Homo sapiens: one gene and its partner. The protein of the gene in region 1 purifies or fractionates together with the protein of each later gene. This does not show direct contact. Each region holds a gene or a part of one and is shown in the gene's direction. Other genes may lie near its edges.

Region 1 (8,032 bases):
TTACTGAGTGCTTCCTAATATGTACCAGGCAAGGTGGTAGGTTATGACATCCACTGCCTTGTGGAAGGATCTGGTAAGATCTGGAAGACATTCCAGTGTCTCTTGTATGAACATTCTGAAGCTGCCTTTGTCCTTGTGGAATTGATTTTCTTTTCTTTTCTTTTTTCTTTTCTTTTTTTTTTTTTTGTTTTTTGAGACAGGGTCTCACTTTGTTGCCCAGGCTGGAGTGCGGTGATGCAGTCGCAGCTCACGCAGCCTTGACCTCCTGAGCTCAAGTGATCCTCCCACTTCAGACTCCCAAGTAGCTGGGACCACAGGTGTGTGCCACCATGCCTGGCTTTTTTTTTTTTTTTTTGTAGAGATGGGGTGTCATTGTGTTGCCCAGGCTGGTCTCAAATTCTTGGACTCAAGCAGTCCTCCCGCCTCAGCCTCCCAAAATGCTGGGATGACAGGTATGAGCCACCATGCTCAGCCTGCTTTCCTAGTTTTTTGTTTTGTTTTGTTTTGTTTTGTTTTGAGATGGAGTTTTGCTCTTGTTGCCCAGGCTGGAGTGTGATGGCACAATCTCAGCTGACTGCAACCTCTGCCTCCTGGGTTCAAGTGACTCTCCTGCCTCAGCCTTCTGAATAGCTGGGATTACAGGCATGTACCACCATACCTAGCTAATTTTGTATTTTTAGTAGAGACGGGGTTTCTCCATGTTGGTCAGGCTGTTCTCGAACTCCCGACCTCAGGTGATCCACCTGCCTCTGCCTCCCAAAGTGCTGGGATTACAGGCATGAGCCACTGCACCCAGCCGCTTTCCTGTTTTAAGTTGAATACTAGTTGTCTTTGAGCAGCTTTATTTCAAAGAGTCCTGAGATTATAGTACCTTCCAGTTTAGAAATGTGATGTAGTAAAGGAGCTATTCACTATAAAGTGTGCCCTTCAGTGTTCATGCATAAAACATCAAAATTACAGTTAATTAGCAGATAAGATATTGGTGGGGATATTTAAAAATTATATTTAAACAAAAAAGTATTAGCATAATTTAAGTAACCAGTACATGAGGATCTTAAGTTAATACTTTTTTCCAGCTTTTATTTTAAGATAATTATAGTTGCAGGAATTTGCAAATATAGTACAGAGAAGTCTCATGTACCCTTCACCTAGTTTTCCCCATTGATTACATATTATATAATTCTAGTAAACAGCAACTCCAGGAAATTGATGTTGGTATAAAGTGTGTGTGTGTGTGTGTGTGTGTGTGTGTGTAGTACTGTCACTTTATCGTGTGTAGATTCCTGTAATCATCACCGCAATCAAGATACAGAATTATTCCATCACCAGATGCCTTTGGCTGTTCATTCATAGTCACACCCATTCCCTTCCTCTCTACCATCCCTAACCTCTGACAACTGTTTATCAGCCCTCCATTTCTATAATTTTGTCATTTCAAGAATGTTACGTAAAAGGATGCATATTGTATATAACCTTTTGATACGGGCTTTTTATAACCAAGCATAATGCACTTGAGATCCATTCAAGTTGTTCTGTGTACCAGGACCATAGTTTATTCTTCTTCTTTGCTGAGTAGTATTCCATGGAATGAATATACTGCGGTTTGTTTAACCATTCACTATTTGTAGGACATTTTGGTTGTTTTCAGGTTTGGTTGTTATAAATAAAGCTGCAATGAGCAATTGTACAGAGGTTTTCGTGTAGACACAAATTTTTATTTCTCTGGGATAAATGTCAGGAGTGTGATTGGTAGATTGTACAATAATTGCATGTTTAGTTTTAAAAGAAACTGCCAAACTGTGTTTTGTTTTTGTTTTTTTTTTTGAGATGAAATTTCATTCTGTTGTCCAGGCTGGAGTGCAATGGTGCAGTCTTGGCGCACTGCAACCTCCGCCTCCCAGGTTCAAGTGATTCTCCTGCCTCAGCCTCCCAAGTAGCTGGGATTATAGGTGCCCACCACCATGCCTAGCTAATTTTTGCATTTTTAGTAGAGATGGGGTTTCACCGTGTTGGCCAGGCTGGTCTCGAACCCTTAACCTCAGGTGATCCACTCACCTCAGCCTGCCAAAGTGCTGGGATTACAGGCATGAGCCACTGCGCCTGGCCCAGACTTTTCTAGAGTATACCATTTTACAGTCCAGTAATGCATGAGAGATCCAGTTTGTCTCCATGCTTGCCAGTGTTTGATACTGTCACTATTTATCATTTTAGCTGTTCTGATGGGTAGGTAGTATTATCTCATTGGGGTCTCAAGTTGCATTTTCATAATAGCTCAATATCTTTTCATGCTCTGATTTGCCATCCATATATCCTCTTTGTGAAATGTCTGTATGTGTGTTTTTCCCATTTTAAAATTGGATTGTTTGTGTTTTTTCACTGTTGAATTTCAAGAGTTCTTTATACATTCTAGATTTGAGTTGCTTATCAGATATGTGGTTTACAGATATTTTCTCCCAATTTCTAGCTTGTCTTTTCATCCTCTTCACATGGGCTTTCCTAGAGAAGCAAAATTGAAAAGTGTTCAATTTTGTTGCAGTCCAGTTTTCCGAATTATCTTATGGATTATGCTTTTGGTGTCATATCTAAGAGCTCCTCACCAAGTCATAGGTCCTGAAGATTTCCTCCTATGTTTTCTTCCAGTTTTATAGTTTTATTTTTCATATTTATATCTATGATAAATTTTTAGTTAATTTTTATGTAAGATGTGAGGTTTAGGTCAAGATTCTTTCTTTTTACTCCCGGCACTATTTATAGAAAAGACTACCCTTCCTCCCTTAAATTACTTTTGCACTTTGTAAAAAATCAGTTAGATATACTTATGTAAGTATATTTTTGGGTTCTGTATTCTGTTTCATTGATCTATGTCTATTCCTCCAACAATACCACACAATCTTGATTACTATAGCTATATAATAAGTCTTGAAGTAGGATAGCATGGTTTTTCCTATTTTATTCTTTTTTCAGAATTGCTTTAGCTATTTTAGTTTCTTTGCCTTTTCATACGCATTTTAGAATAATCTTATCTATAGCCACAAACTCGCTTGCTTATTTTTTTTTTTCAGTAGTTGTATTAAACCTGTATATCAGTTTGGGGGAGAATTGACATCTTTGCTTTGTTGACTCTTCCAATCCATAAAACATGATATATCTCCCCATTTATTTAGCACTTTGATTTCAGGAATATTTTGTAGTTTTCAGCATACAAGTTCTGTATATGTTTTGTTAGATTTATATCTAAGTATTTTATTTAAAAAATTATAGCTTTATTGATATTATTTTTTAGAGTGATTATAAATGGTATTTAAATTTTGGTTTCTATATGTTCATTGTTCGTATATAGAAATGTAATTTTTTTTAGATGAAGTATCACTCTGTCCAAAGGACCAACTTTTTGTTTCATTGATTTTTCTCTGTTTTTAAAATTTTCCATTTCATTGATTTCTATCCTATTATTTCCTTCCATGTTTGTGATTTAAGTTTATTTTGCTCTTCTTCTAATTTCTTGACTTGTGAGCTTAAATTACTGTTTTGAGACTTTTCTTCTTTTGGAATGTAAGCATTTAGTGCTATGGATTTCCCTCTCGGTACTGTTTTAGCTGTGTGACACAAATTTTGATATATTTTCATTTTCATCTAGTTCAATGTATTTTTTTAATTTCCTTTATATTTCCTTTTTAACTTACGGATTGTTTTAAAGTGTGTGTTTAATTTTCAAGTGTTTGGAGGTTTTCTTTACCTTTCTGTTATTAATTTATAATTTGATTACACTGTGGTCATATAACACACTTTGTATAAATTATTTTAAATTTATTGAGTTTTGTCTTATAGTCCAGGATATGGTCTATCTTGGTAGACATTCTGTGGTTTCTTGACTTAAACTCCTGTCCTCAGCAATCCTCCCACCTCGGCCTCCCAGAGGGCTGAGATTACAGGTATGAGCCATTGTGTCCAGCCTATTCTGTGGGGTCTTCAAAGGAATTCTTCTGTTGTTGGATGCAATATTATAAATCATGATTATATCCTTTAGTTGATAGTGTTTTCTAGTTCTTTTTGTAAATCTTTGCTGATTTCTGTTTACTTGTCTTATCAATTTTTGAGGTGCAGTTGATTGAAGTCTCCAGCTATAACTATGGATTTGTCTGTTCCTCCTTTCACTTTATGAGTTTTTGCTTCACTTATTTACATCTTTGAAGTTTGGTGCAAACACATTCAGGATTATTATGCCTTCTTAGTGGACTTATTCTTTTATCATTATGTAATATCCTTCTTTGTTCCTGGACATTTTCTTCACTCTGAAGTCTATCTGATGATAATATAACTCTTGCTTCTTTTGATTAATGTTTGCATGCTATATTTTTTCCATCCATTTACTTTCAACCTACCTATATTGTTATACTGGAAGTGAATTTCATGTAGATAGTATATAATTGGGTCATGTCTTTTATCTACTGTCAGTCTCTGTTTTGGCAATTGTCATATTTAGACCATTTACATTTAATGTAATCATTGATATATATTAGGGAATAAGTCTGCCCTTTTTTGTTTTGTGTTTGTTCTGTTTGTTGTTGCCATTGTTGTTATTTCTCTGTTTTCTTTTCCTTGACTTCTTGTGGGTAATTTGAACATTTTAAAATAATTACATTTTAGGCCAGGCCTAGTGGCTCATGCCTGTAATCCCAGTACTTTGGGAAGCTGAGATGGGAGGATTGCTTGAGACCAGGAATTCAAGACCAGCTGTGGCAACATAGCAAGATCCTGTCTGTACAAAATATATCTTTTAAAAAATTAGCTGGGTATAACGGTACATGTCTGTAGTCCCAGCTACTTGGGAGGCTGAGGCAGAAGGATCACTTGAGTCTTGAGGCTGAGGCAGAAGGATGACTTGAGGTTGAGGCAGCAGTGAGCCATGATTGTGTCACTGCGTTCCAGACTGGGTGACAGAGTGAGACCCTGTCTCAAAAAATAATAATTTCATTTTATAATCTATAGTGTTTTTTAGTATATCTCTTTGTATAGTTTTTAGTGGGGTGTATATGTGTTTGTGTGTGAGTATGTGTATGACTTGTTGTGGTCTCCTGATGTGTTTTACTATTTCAAATGAAATGTAGAAACTTTACCTCCTTTTATGTCTTTGAACCCTCCCATTTATAATTGTCTTAAATAGTTCCTTTACGTATGTTGAGAACCACATGAGACATAATTATTGCTTCATTCACCGAACATAATTTAGAAAACTCATGAGAGAATAATCTGTCATATTTTTAAAAGTTTTTACCCTTTCTGTTGTTCTTTCTTTCTTCCTGATATTCCAGGATTTCTTCTTTTATCATTTCCTTTCTGTTTAGAGAACTTCTTGACAAATTCCTTTAATGTTCCTTCATCTAAGTATGCTTTAATTTTTCTTTTATTCCTTTTTTTTTTTTTTTTTTTGAGACAGGGTCTTGCTATGTTGCCTAGGCTGGACTTGAACTCCTGGGGCTCAAGCAGTATAGCTGGGACTACAGACACATGCCACTGCACCTGGCTGCTTGAAGGATATTTTTGCTGAATACAGGATTCTGGGTTGGCAGTTCTTTTCTTTTAGTATTTGAAAAATGTGCTACTTCCTTTTGGCCTCCATGTTTTCTATGAGAAATTTGCTGTCATTTGAATTGTTTTCCCCTTATAGGTAAGGTTATTATTTTTCTCTTGCTGCTTTCAAGATTTTTTCTTTGTCTTTAGTTTTCATAAGTTGGGCTTCTGTCTGTGTGCTGGCATGGGTTTCTGGGTTTATCCTTTCTGGGATTTGTTCAGTTTCTTTGAATCTCTGGGCTTATGTCTTTTGCACAGTTTGGGAAATATTCAGAAATTATTTCTTTGAATACTTTTTCAGCCCTGTCTTCTTTCTTTTGTCCTCCAGGACTCAAGTAACATGAATAGTTGGTCATTTTTTAGAGTCTCACAGGTCTCCAAGTCTCTGTGAAATATTTTTCAATCTAGTTCCTCTCATATTGTTCAGATTGAGTAATTTCTATGTTCTGTCTTAATGTTTACTCATTCATTCTTCTCCTCCCCCCCATATTTCTATTGAGTCCATCCATTGCATTTTTTACTTTAGTTAATTAATTACTTTATTTATTTTCATACAGATGGGGGTCTCATTATGTTGCCCAGGCTGGTCTCAAACTCCTGGTCTCAGGTGATCCTCTTGCCTTGGCCTCCCAAAGCATTAGGATTATAGATGTAAGCCACTGCACCTGGCCTCAGTTTTGTTTTTTGTTTTTTTGTTTTTGACGGAGTCTCGCTCTGTAGCCCAGGATGGAGTGCAGTGGTGTGATCTTGGCTCACTGCCATCTCAGCCTCCCGGATTCAAGCGATTCTCCTGCCTCAGCCTCCCAAGTATCTGAGACTACAGGTGTGTGCCACCATGCCCGGCTAATTTTTGTATTTTTAATAGAGACGAGGTTTTACTGTGTTGGCCAGGCTGTCTCGAACTCCTGACCTCAAGTGACCCACCTGCCTTGGCCTACCAAAGTGCCAGGATTACAGGCATGAGCCATCGTGCCTGGCCTCCTCGGTTTATTTTTAATTCTAGAATCTCCATTTAGTTTTTATATCTTCTGTTTCTTTACTGAGAGTTTTTATTTTTCATTTTTTAAAAGTGGCTGGGTGTGGTGGCTCACCCCTATAATCCCGCCACTTTGAGAGGCCGAGGTGGGAGGATCACATGAGCCTGAGAGTTCAAGATGAGCCTGAGCAACATAGCGAGACCCTGTGTCTACAGAAAAAAAAAGTAGTGGTGTGTGCCTGTATTCCCAGCTATTCAGAATGCTAAGGTGGAAGGATTGCTTGAGCCCTGGAGATCGAGGCTGCAGTGAGCCATGATTGCACTGCTGTATTCTAGCCTGGGAAACAGTTTATAATTGACCATTGAAGCATTTTTATGGTGGCTGTTTTAAACTCTTTGTTAGATAATTCTAATATCTCTGTCATCTTGATGTTGCCATCAATTAATGTCTCTTCTCATTGAAGCTGAGGTTTTTCTGGTTCTTAGTATAGCCAGTGATTTTCTATTGAAACTTACATTTTGGATGTTTTGAGATCTGAATCTTACTAAAATCTTCTGTTTTAGCTGGCCCTTCTGAACACCACTCCAGCAGGGGAAGCAAGGGACTGTCTTATTACTGCCCAATGGAAGTAGAAGTCCAGGTTCCCTACGTGGCCTCTGTTAACACCCTGGGGGAAAGGGGCTGCTCATCATTGCCTGGGAGAGATAGGAATTCTGTCTACCCAGTGACACAGTGGGAGAGAATGGCTCATTACTGCCCTCTAGCCCCCTACTTGGCCTTCTCTGATGCTACCCCGGCAGGATGGGAGGTGGAGAATGGGGCACTTCATTACTGTAGGGCAGTGGTGGAAGTCTAGGCTCTTCACTTGGCCTTCGTTGGCAGGTGTGTGGTAGCTACAGTTTTTTTGTGATGTTTGGCTGGAGTAGAGCAGTTTTTTACCTGCAAGTTTTTTGTTTTGCTATGCATTACCTTTTCTAGTTTTTTTGACTGGAGAGAACAAAGTTTTTTTGGCTTTTTTTTTTTTTTTGGTCTGTACCCATTGGCATTTCTTGCTAGCTTCTCCACCACTCAGTCTGTGATATGTGAGACAAACAAACAAACAAATAAGAAAAAACAAACTCAGCAGACTCACAGCTGTGTCATTCCTCAGACCCCAAGGTCCCTAGCCAGTCTTCTTCCTTCTCCACCTTTCAGAATTTTTATTTTTATTTTTGAGACAGGGTCTCACTCTGTCACCTAGGTTGGAGTGCAGTGACACAATCTCAGCTCACTGTAACCTCTCCCTCCCGGATTCAAGCGATTCTCGTGCCTCAGCCTCCTGAGTAGCTGGGATTACAGGTGTGTGCCACCACGCCCGGCTAATTTTTGTATTTTTAGTAGAGACGGGGTTTCGCCATGTTGGCCAGGCTGGTCAGAATTTTTAAATGTTTATTTTATATATAATGTCCAGGGTATTTCAAGGGAGAAGTAGGGAAAAGTACTTC
Region 2 (8,032 bases), on another chromosome or scaffold:
CCACCAAACTGTGCCGCGTGTGGAACCCTTCCCTGGTACTTACTGCCTTCCGGCTGTGTCCCAGTCTCCTCCACCTCAAATGCTAAGCCCTTGGAGGGCTGCCTCCCACTTTCTTCTTTAGCCTTATTACTTGACATTTGCTCATTCATTGGTTATTGACTGAATGCTTCCAATGTGCCAAGCACTCTTTTTGGTGCTGGGATTTGATGGTGAATCCACGTTCTCCGTCCCAGTCTGGGTTGGGTTGTTCTGCAGAGGAACTGGGTTTGAGGCCTGATGAAAAGAGCACCCTGACGCAGTCTTAGAGAGGTGGCAGCTGACCTCCACGGGCTAAAAGGTTTCCAGCAGGACATGCCCAGGGCAGTAGGCCGGGGCACCACTGGCTGACATCTTGGGTCTTCCGCATTTTTGGCTGGAGATGCACTCAGGTGGTGGCAATGGTATTCTGCTTGTACAGGGCAGGTTCCTGCCAGGTCACCAAAGTCCCAAGAAGGGGTTTATCAACCTTTTTGCACCCAAACCAAACCACCCTGAAACTCCACCATAATTACTTCATGTGACTTCCTAAAAATGAAACCATGTCCCTTAGATCTAATATCTGGATTCCAATTATGATTTCTTTTTTCTTCTTCTTTCTTCCTTCTTCTTCCTTCTCCTTCTCCTTCTCCTTCTTCTCCTTCTTCTTCTTTCTTCTTTCTCTCTCTGTCACCCAGGCTAGAGTGGAGTGGCTGGATCATAGTTCATTGCAGCCTCGAACTCCTGGACTCAAAAGATCCTCCCACCTCAGCCTCCTAAGTGACTGGGATTATAGGCGTGAGCCACTGTGCCCGACCTCCAGTTACTATTTCTTATGTCACCAGGCCCATCTCATTACATTGCCAACAAGTTATACAATAATCATGGACATTGCATGTGCACAGTCACATTGCAATGAATGCACATAGCACAGCAGGCCTGACCAAGTAAGACACCTGCCATCCTATGACCTCTGGGTCTTTCCCTCTGCATAACTCTTCCTTTGAGACTGAACTCCTGCATCCTCTGTATGCCATATCATCTCACTGGCTTCTTACAAGCACCTAGTGAAGAGTCTCCAGTTTGGCAGATGAGAAACCCAAAGCTCAGAGAGGTTAAGTGAGTTGCCCAAGGTTGCACAGCCACTTAAGCCAAAGCCAATTATCTTCATGCTGTACCCTAAGCCTGTTGAGCTGACTGCAAGGGTTTAGAAAGCTATCCTCATTTGATCCTGATACCCAATGTCCCAGATATCTTCTGTTCTTAATGTCACGCTTTCTCGAGCAAGAACATCACCCCCACGTCGTTCCTAGACCCAGACGGCTGTCAAGCTGCCAGCCAGCCCTACCCTTCTGGGAGCCATTTCCCTGCTGCTAGTGAGGGCCAGCTTGCTTCCACCCTATTCTCATGATGTGATTTCTTAGGAGCCCCACTAACAGGTCAGAGCCAGAAGGAAATGTTCCTTAAAGTCCCCTCCAAGGTTGGGCACAGTGGCTCACACTTGTAATCCCAGCACTTTGGGAGGCTGAGGCAGGCAGATCACTTGAGTCCAAGAGTTCAAGACCAGCCTGGGCAACATGGCGAAACCCTGTCTCTATAAAAAAATACAAAAAATTAGCTGGGTGCGGTGGCATGTGCCTGTAGTCCCAGCTACTTGGAAGGCTGAGGTGGGAGGATCACTTGAGTCTCGGAGGTTGAGGCTGCAGTAAGCTGATATCACGCTACTGCACTCCAACCTGAGAGAGCAAGACCCTGTAACAAAAAAAAAAAAAAAAAAGCCCTTCCAGGCAAGCCAAGGTCTCTGGGTTGTGCCAAGCATGAGCATTTTCGGGCAGAGGCTACCTGGAGTATCTGACAGAGAGTGGCATCTAAAGTCAGTAAACCTAGATCCGAGTTGTGGTTCTGCCCCTTCTTGGCTGTGTGACTTGGGGCAAGTTGCTTGACCTCTCTGGTCCTCAGTTCCCCCAACTCTACAATGAGGACAATTAACTTCCCTCACTACTTATCCTAGACCCAACTGAGTGATCGTGAAGCAGAAAAAGCAAGAGGTAGGAATCTGCCAGTTTCTAGCAGCACAAGTCAAGTCCTAAAGCTACTGGGAGAATCATCTCTGGGAACCCCTCTGCCCTTAGGGTGTCCTATACAGTGATGCTGGTTTTTGGATTTGCACTGAGTGCATTACACTGATTTTGCCCAAGACACTCTTTCTCTACTCCAAAAGTCCCTTTTTGTATTTTTAGCAGAGAAAAGGTTTCACCATGTTGGCCAGGCTGGTCTCGAACTCCTGGCCTCAAGCAATCCATCCGCCTCGGCCTCCCAAAATGCAGGGATTACAGGCGTGAGGCACTGCACTCTGCCTGTTTTTTAGCCATTCTGATGGTTAAATATATAAAGAAAGAGACTCACGGGAAGTTGCAAAAACCAGTACAAAGAGCCCCATGTACGCTTCGCTCAGTTTTCCCCAGCGGCAGTAGCATCCTATATAACGCCAATGCAATATGGCAACCAGGACACTGACCCTTTTTTAAAACATCCACAGCAATCCTAGTGGATTTCTCTAAAGGTTTAAGGAAACCGGCCATGCCCCACGCTGACAGAACGTCATCATCCTGCAACCCCATTTGGAGGCTATTTGAACACAGGGGCTATGAAAAGCACCATTTGTGGGCAGGGAGCTGGGTCAGGCCCCCAGAAGTCACCATTTGTCTCTTGCCCTTTTGCAGAGCATGTTTGTCAACAGACCCGCCCTCGGAATCCTGCCTCCGGAGAACTTTGTGGAGAAGCTCCGGCAGTCCTTGCTCTCGGTGAGTTCTGGAGAAGCAATCCCATTGTCTTCAGACGTGGTACTGGCAGGGGAAGGGAAAAGTGGAGACGCCAACAATGAAGAATAAGGTGTTGCTACAGAAATCTTTCTCTCTGAGCTTATTCTTCCATGCAGAGTATTTTAAATTTTTCTTTTAAAGGACAGAAGGGATTCTTTGTGTGCAGGACAAAAGGAGCTGGGGAAATGAATATGTGTCGCATGATAGGAGCCTTGCATATGTCATTCAATCCTGCCCCCACTTCTCGGTTTTAGTTACTACAAACGATTAAAGCCATTGGGAGCCTCAACGTCCCGCCTGGAACGTGTAGGTGTCTTAGACAGTGGCAGGTGCATCAGGAGTGGGCTTTTGCCCCCCTTCTTTCCTCTCTGCCAGCCTCAGGGCCTCCCTGGGCTTCTCCGCCACCCCTGGAAAAGCCTGAGCCCACCCTCCCAGTCCGACACCTTCCAGGACAGCCCTGGTTCTGTCTGTCCCCGGTACGGCCCCTGCGAAGATTCAGCTCCAGCCAGGGGAAGCGGGAGGACAGGAGTCATGATGAGCCTGGGCTCACGGCTATTTCCCTCCCCACAGGTGGCTCCCAAAGGGATGTCCCAGCTCATCACCATGGCCTGCGGCTCCTGCTCCAATGAAAACGCCTTAAAGACCATCTTCATGTGGTACCGGGTGAGGTTTGGGGCACACACACACACACACACACAGGCTCCCCAGCACCCAGCCACACGCTCACCCCTTGTCTGACTGTTCATTCCAATGGGCTGGAGTATTAGACATCAGTACCAGGGTTAAAATACAGGGAGGGCCACTGCTGGATGGTACTTTGAGACGGCACAGTGGGGTATGGTGCAGAGGGCTGAGGCTTTGGCATCAAAACTATGCAATGGGGGCTGGGCGCAGTCGTTCACACCTGTAATCCCAACACTCTGAGAGGCAAAGGCGGGCAGATCACTTGAGCCCAGGAGCTCGAGACCAGCCTGGGCAACATGACGAAACCCCATCTCTACTAAAAAAAAATTCAAAAATTGGCCAGGCATGGTGACGCATGCCTGTAGTCCCAACTATTCTGGAGGCTGAGGTGGAAGGATTGCTTGAGCCTGGGAGGTCAAGGCTGCAGTGAGCCATGGTTGTGCCACTGCATTTCAGCCTGGGTGACAGAGTAAGACCCTGTCTCAAAAAAAAAAAAAGAAGAAGAAAATGCTCCTTAAATTCCCCTCCAAGGTTGGGCACAGTGGCTCACACTTGTAATCCCAGCACTTCGGGAGGCTGAGGCAGGCAGATCACTTGAGTCCAAGAGTTCAAGACCAGCCTGGGCAACATGGTGAAACCCCGTCTCTATAAAATATACAAAAAATTAGCTGGGTGCGGTGGTGCCTGCCTGTTGTCCCAGCTACTTGGAAGGCTGAGGTGGGAGGATCACTTGAGCCTGGGAGGTCGAGGCTGCAGTTAGCTGATATCATGCTACTGCACTCCAACCTGAGAGACACAGCAAGAGCAAGGAGCAAGACCCTGTAAAAAAACAAAAACAGAAACGAAAACAAAAACAAAAAAAACCCTTCCAGGCAAGCCAAGGTCTCTGGGTTGTGCCTCTAGGTTATTTTATTTAAATATTTAAATTTAAATTTATTTAAATATTCTAAATTGCAGAGACAGAGTCCCACTTTGTTGCCCAGCATGGTCTCAAACTCTTGGCCTCAAGCAATCCTCCTGTCTTAGCCACCCAAAGTACTAGGATTACAGATTTGAGCCCGCACATCTGGCCTCCATTCTTCCTGGCAAAACATGCAACGCTCTCAGCAGATCTTAATCCAACAGATCTTAATCGTTGCTGATGGTGCTTAATGCATTATGTGTGTTAGTTTCTTTTGTTGCGAGCACAGTTGGTAGCCTCACGTTTCAGTACAGACCTGCAACAATTAATACATGAGATCCACTCCTGAGAAAGCACTTTCTACTTGTCTGGACTGAATATCGGTTTGGTTGGAAAGATGAAGCCCCGACTACCCCAGAGCATCTCTGAGATTTTGTTCTGTTCTATTGTTTCAGAGCAAGGAAAGAGGGCAGAGGGGCTTCTCCCAGGAGGAGCTGGAGACGTGCATGATTAACCAGGTGAGTGCAGCTGGGCTTGCACCACGTACATCTGGGGAAGCTGCACAGCCTCTCCCGGGCTGTTGCTGGCTGGCTGGCACTGTCCTCAATTAGGAAGGGCCAGGCCAGGCGCGGTGGCTCATGCCTGTAATCCCAGCACTTTGGGAGGCCAAGGCAGGCGGATCACCCAAGGTCAGGAGTTCAAGACCAGCCTGGCTAATATGGTGAAACCCCATCTCTACTAAAAAGACAAAAATTACCCGGGCATAGTGGCACATGCATGTAATCCCAGCTACTTGGGAGGCTGAGGCAGGAGAATCATTTGAACCCAGGAGGTGGAGGTTGCAGTGAGCCGAGATCACACCACTACACTCCAGCCTGGGTGACAGAGTGAGACTCCTCTCAAAACAAACAAAAAAACAAAAACAAAAACAAAAGGCCGGCTGCTGTGGTTCACGCCTGTAATCCCAGCACTTTGGGAGGCCGAGGCGGGTGGATCTCCCGAGGTCAGGAGTTCCAGACCAGCCTGGCCAATATGGCGAAACCCTGTCTCTACTAAAAATACAAAAATTAGCCAGATGTGGTGGCGGGTACCTGTAATTCCAGCTACTCGGGAGGCTGAGGCAGGAGAATCGCTTGAACCCGACGGGCGCGGAGGTTGCAGTAGGCCGAGATCTCACCACTGCACTCCAGCCTGGCGACAGAGCAAGACTCCATCTCAAAAACAAAACAAAACAAAAAAAGTACAAGAGGGTTTCTGGAATCTGTGGGAGGAGTTCTTAGGGTTTTTCCCAGAGGTCTCAGGGAATTGGTGCTCAACCAGCCTGAGACAATGCCAACCTCCTTGAGACTTGGGGGCCCCCACAGTTCCCTCTGAGGCACCTCCAGCAGTTCTGCCTGAATCAGCTGGAAACATGTTTGGATTCCCTTGCTGGGTGAAGAGTCAGAAAACAATGCAAGGAGTTGCAGCTGTGCCATTTGCTTGGGGCTGGAAAGGGACAGGGCGTCCATGCACCCCTCCTGAACCCAAGGCGCAGCTGCCATGGGAGAGTGCCCGGAGAGGGGCTCCCCTCACCCGCTTTCTAGCACCACAGACCCCTTCCAAAGGCCTGGGGGTTTTCCTGCAAGGTGCCCAGCTCGGCCCCTTGCCTTGGTCACCCTGGGATGCAGGCGTGCACCCATCAGCACCTGACCCGCCTGACACCTGAGGAGGCCTGAGTAGTAGGGAGCCAGGGGATGGGGAGGAAGTTGAAGAGCCTGTAGAAAAGGGGCTGAAAACCCAGGAGTCCCCAGCAGCTGGAGGTAGGCGGGCAGTGGGTACTGCTTGGCCACTTACAGCTGCCACAGGAGGAAAATGGGTCCAAACAGTGCAGCACTGGTGAGAAGCCAGAAGTTCAGGTCTCTATGTGAAATTTCTTAGTTTTAAATTTTGCAACTTGTTTTGAGACAGAGTCTCGCTCTTGTTGACCAGGCTGGGGTGCAGTGGCGCGAACTCGGCTCACTGCAACCTCTGTCTCCCGGGTTCAAGCGATTCTCCTGTCTCAGCCTCCCAAGTAGCTAGGATTACAGGCCCCCACCACCATGCCTGTCTAATTTTTGTATTTTTAGTAGAGACGGGGTTTCACCATGTTGGCCAGGCTGATCCCAAACTCCTGACCTCCGATGATCCGCCTGCCTCAGCCTTCCAAAGTGCTGGGATTACAGGTGTGAGCCACCACACCCAGCCTAAAATTTGTGACTTAAAAAAAAAAAAATGTAAGTATGTATGCAAATAAAACGTGTGTCTTGGATATAGACCCCATTGGTCCCATGGGTAACTTTTGCCTGAGAAGGATTCCTGGTTCTTCTGATAGATTTCTGTGTCCCTCTGGACTTGCAGGGGCAACAATACAGTTCCCCCATCCTTACAACTATGACTAATGACTGATATTTCTTGGTTTTAGGCCCCTGGCTGCCCCGACTACAGCATCCTCTCCTTCATGGGCGCGTTCCATGGGAGGACCATGGGTAAGGAGGGACCATTGCGCTCCCAAGGTGGCGTTTAGAATAGTAATAATAACGGCAACAATAGCGGCGGCTGACATTAGCAGTTTACACATATTGTCCCACTGATTGCACACAATCCCACTGCAGAGTGGGGATTATTATTCCTGCTTTGCAGATGGGGGAATCAGTGTTCAGGAAGAGGAAGAATTTCCAAGGCTATTCAGTGACAGAGCCGGGACTGGAACTCTTGACTCTGTCTTCAAAGCCTGCGCTGCATCTGTGATTAATCGCAATGCAAACACATACCCACGCACGCATGCCAATTAAGGGTTCGAGAGTCCCCCTTCAGCTTCCGGATGAGAACTGGGGTTCAGTATCAAAACATCTCATGTACTCCCCAAGTATATACACCTCCTATGCACCCAGAAAAATTAAAAATTAAACGATAAAAAGAACTGGGGTTTCACAGGCAACAGGCCTCCCTGCCCACTGACAGCCTTGCGCTGAAATGTCTATCATCTCCTTTACAAAGACGGTACTGCCTGCTTCCCCAAGCCAAGCGTCTGCTTTTCTGTTTTGCTGAACTCAGGTTGCTTAGCGACCACGCACTCTAAAGCCATTCACAAGATCGACATCCCTTCCTTTGACTGGCCCATCGCACCGTTCCCACGGCTGAAATACCCTCTGGAAGAGTTTGTGAAAGAGAACCAACAGGAGGAGGCCCGCTGTCTGGAAGAGGTAATGCTCATACCCTGCGGATCCTCCCCAACCACCAGTCCTGTTGCTCTTGCCGCCCCAAGACTTGGGGAGAAGAGAAACAGATGAAGGGTTTATCTGGGGATCTGTGCAGTGCTCCCCCAGAGGGAAGCAGGGACACAGAGGCCTTGCGTCCCAAATGTTCTATGTTGGGAGAGTTCGTGAGACACACTGTTTCTGTCACAGCATCCATCACCCAACTCTGATACCAATTTCTGTATCACTTAAGTTTCTTGGAAGACAAGAGTCAATGACTCTAAAATAAGAGAAAACAGATCAGTTGAAAGAATATGGGGCTGGGCACGGTGGCTCCGCCTGTAATCCCAGCACTTTGGGAGGCTGAGACGGGAGGATCACCTGAGGCCAGGAGT

What was found. The genes of interacting proteins can lie anywhere in the genome.
Region 2: the proteins of SEC22C (region 1) and ABAT purify together in Homo sapiens (affinity purification with mass spectrometry; 3 studies listed by BioGRID and IntAct, with this or other methods). This does not show direct contact.

Annotation. Positions count from the first base shown.
Region 1 is NC_000003.12:42,571,762-42,579,793, reverse strand, and holds part of SEC22C (vesicle-trafficking protein SEC22c), read left to right. Parts: intron 1-8,032. UniProt on the Homo sapiens protein: May be involved in vesicle transport between the ER and the Golgi complex.
Region 2 is NC_000016.10:8,761,331-8,769,362, forward strand, and holds part of ABAT (4-aminobutyrate aminotransferase, mitochondrial isoform 1 precursor), read left to right. Parts: intron 1-2,738; coding exon 2,739-2,819; intron 2,820-3,407; coding exon 3,408-3,500; intron 3,501-4,877; coding exon 4,878-4,940; intron 4,941-6,862; coding exon 6,863-6,926; intron 6,927-7,494; coding exon 7,495-7,643; intron 7,644-8,032. UniProt on the Homo sapiens protein: Catalyzes the conversion of gamma-aminobutyrate and L-beta-aminoisobutyrate to succinate semialdehyde and methylmalonate semialdehyde, respectively. Can also convert delta-aminovalerate and beta-alanine.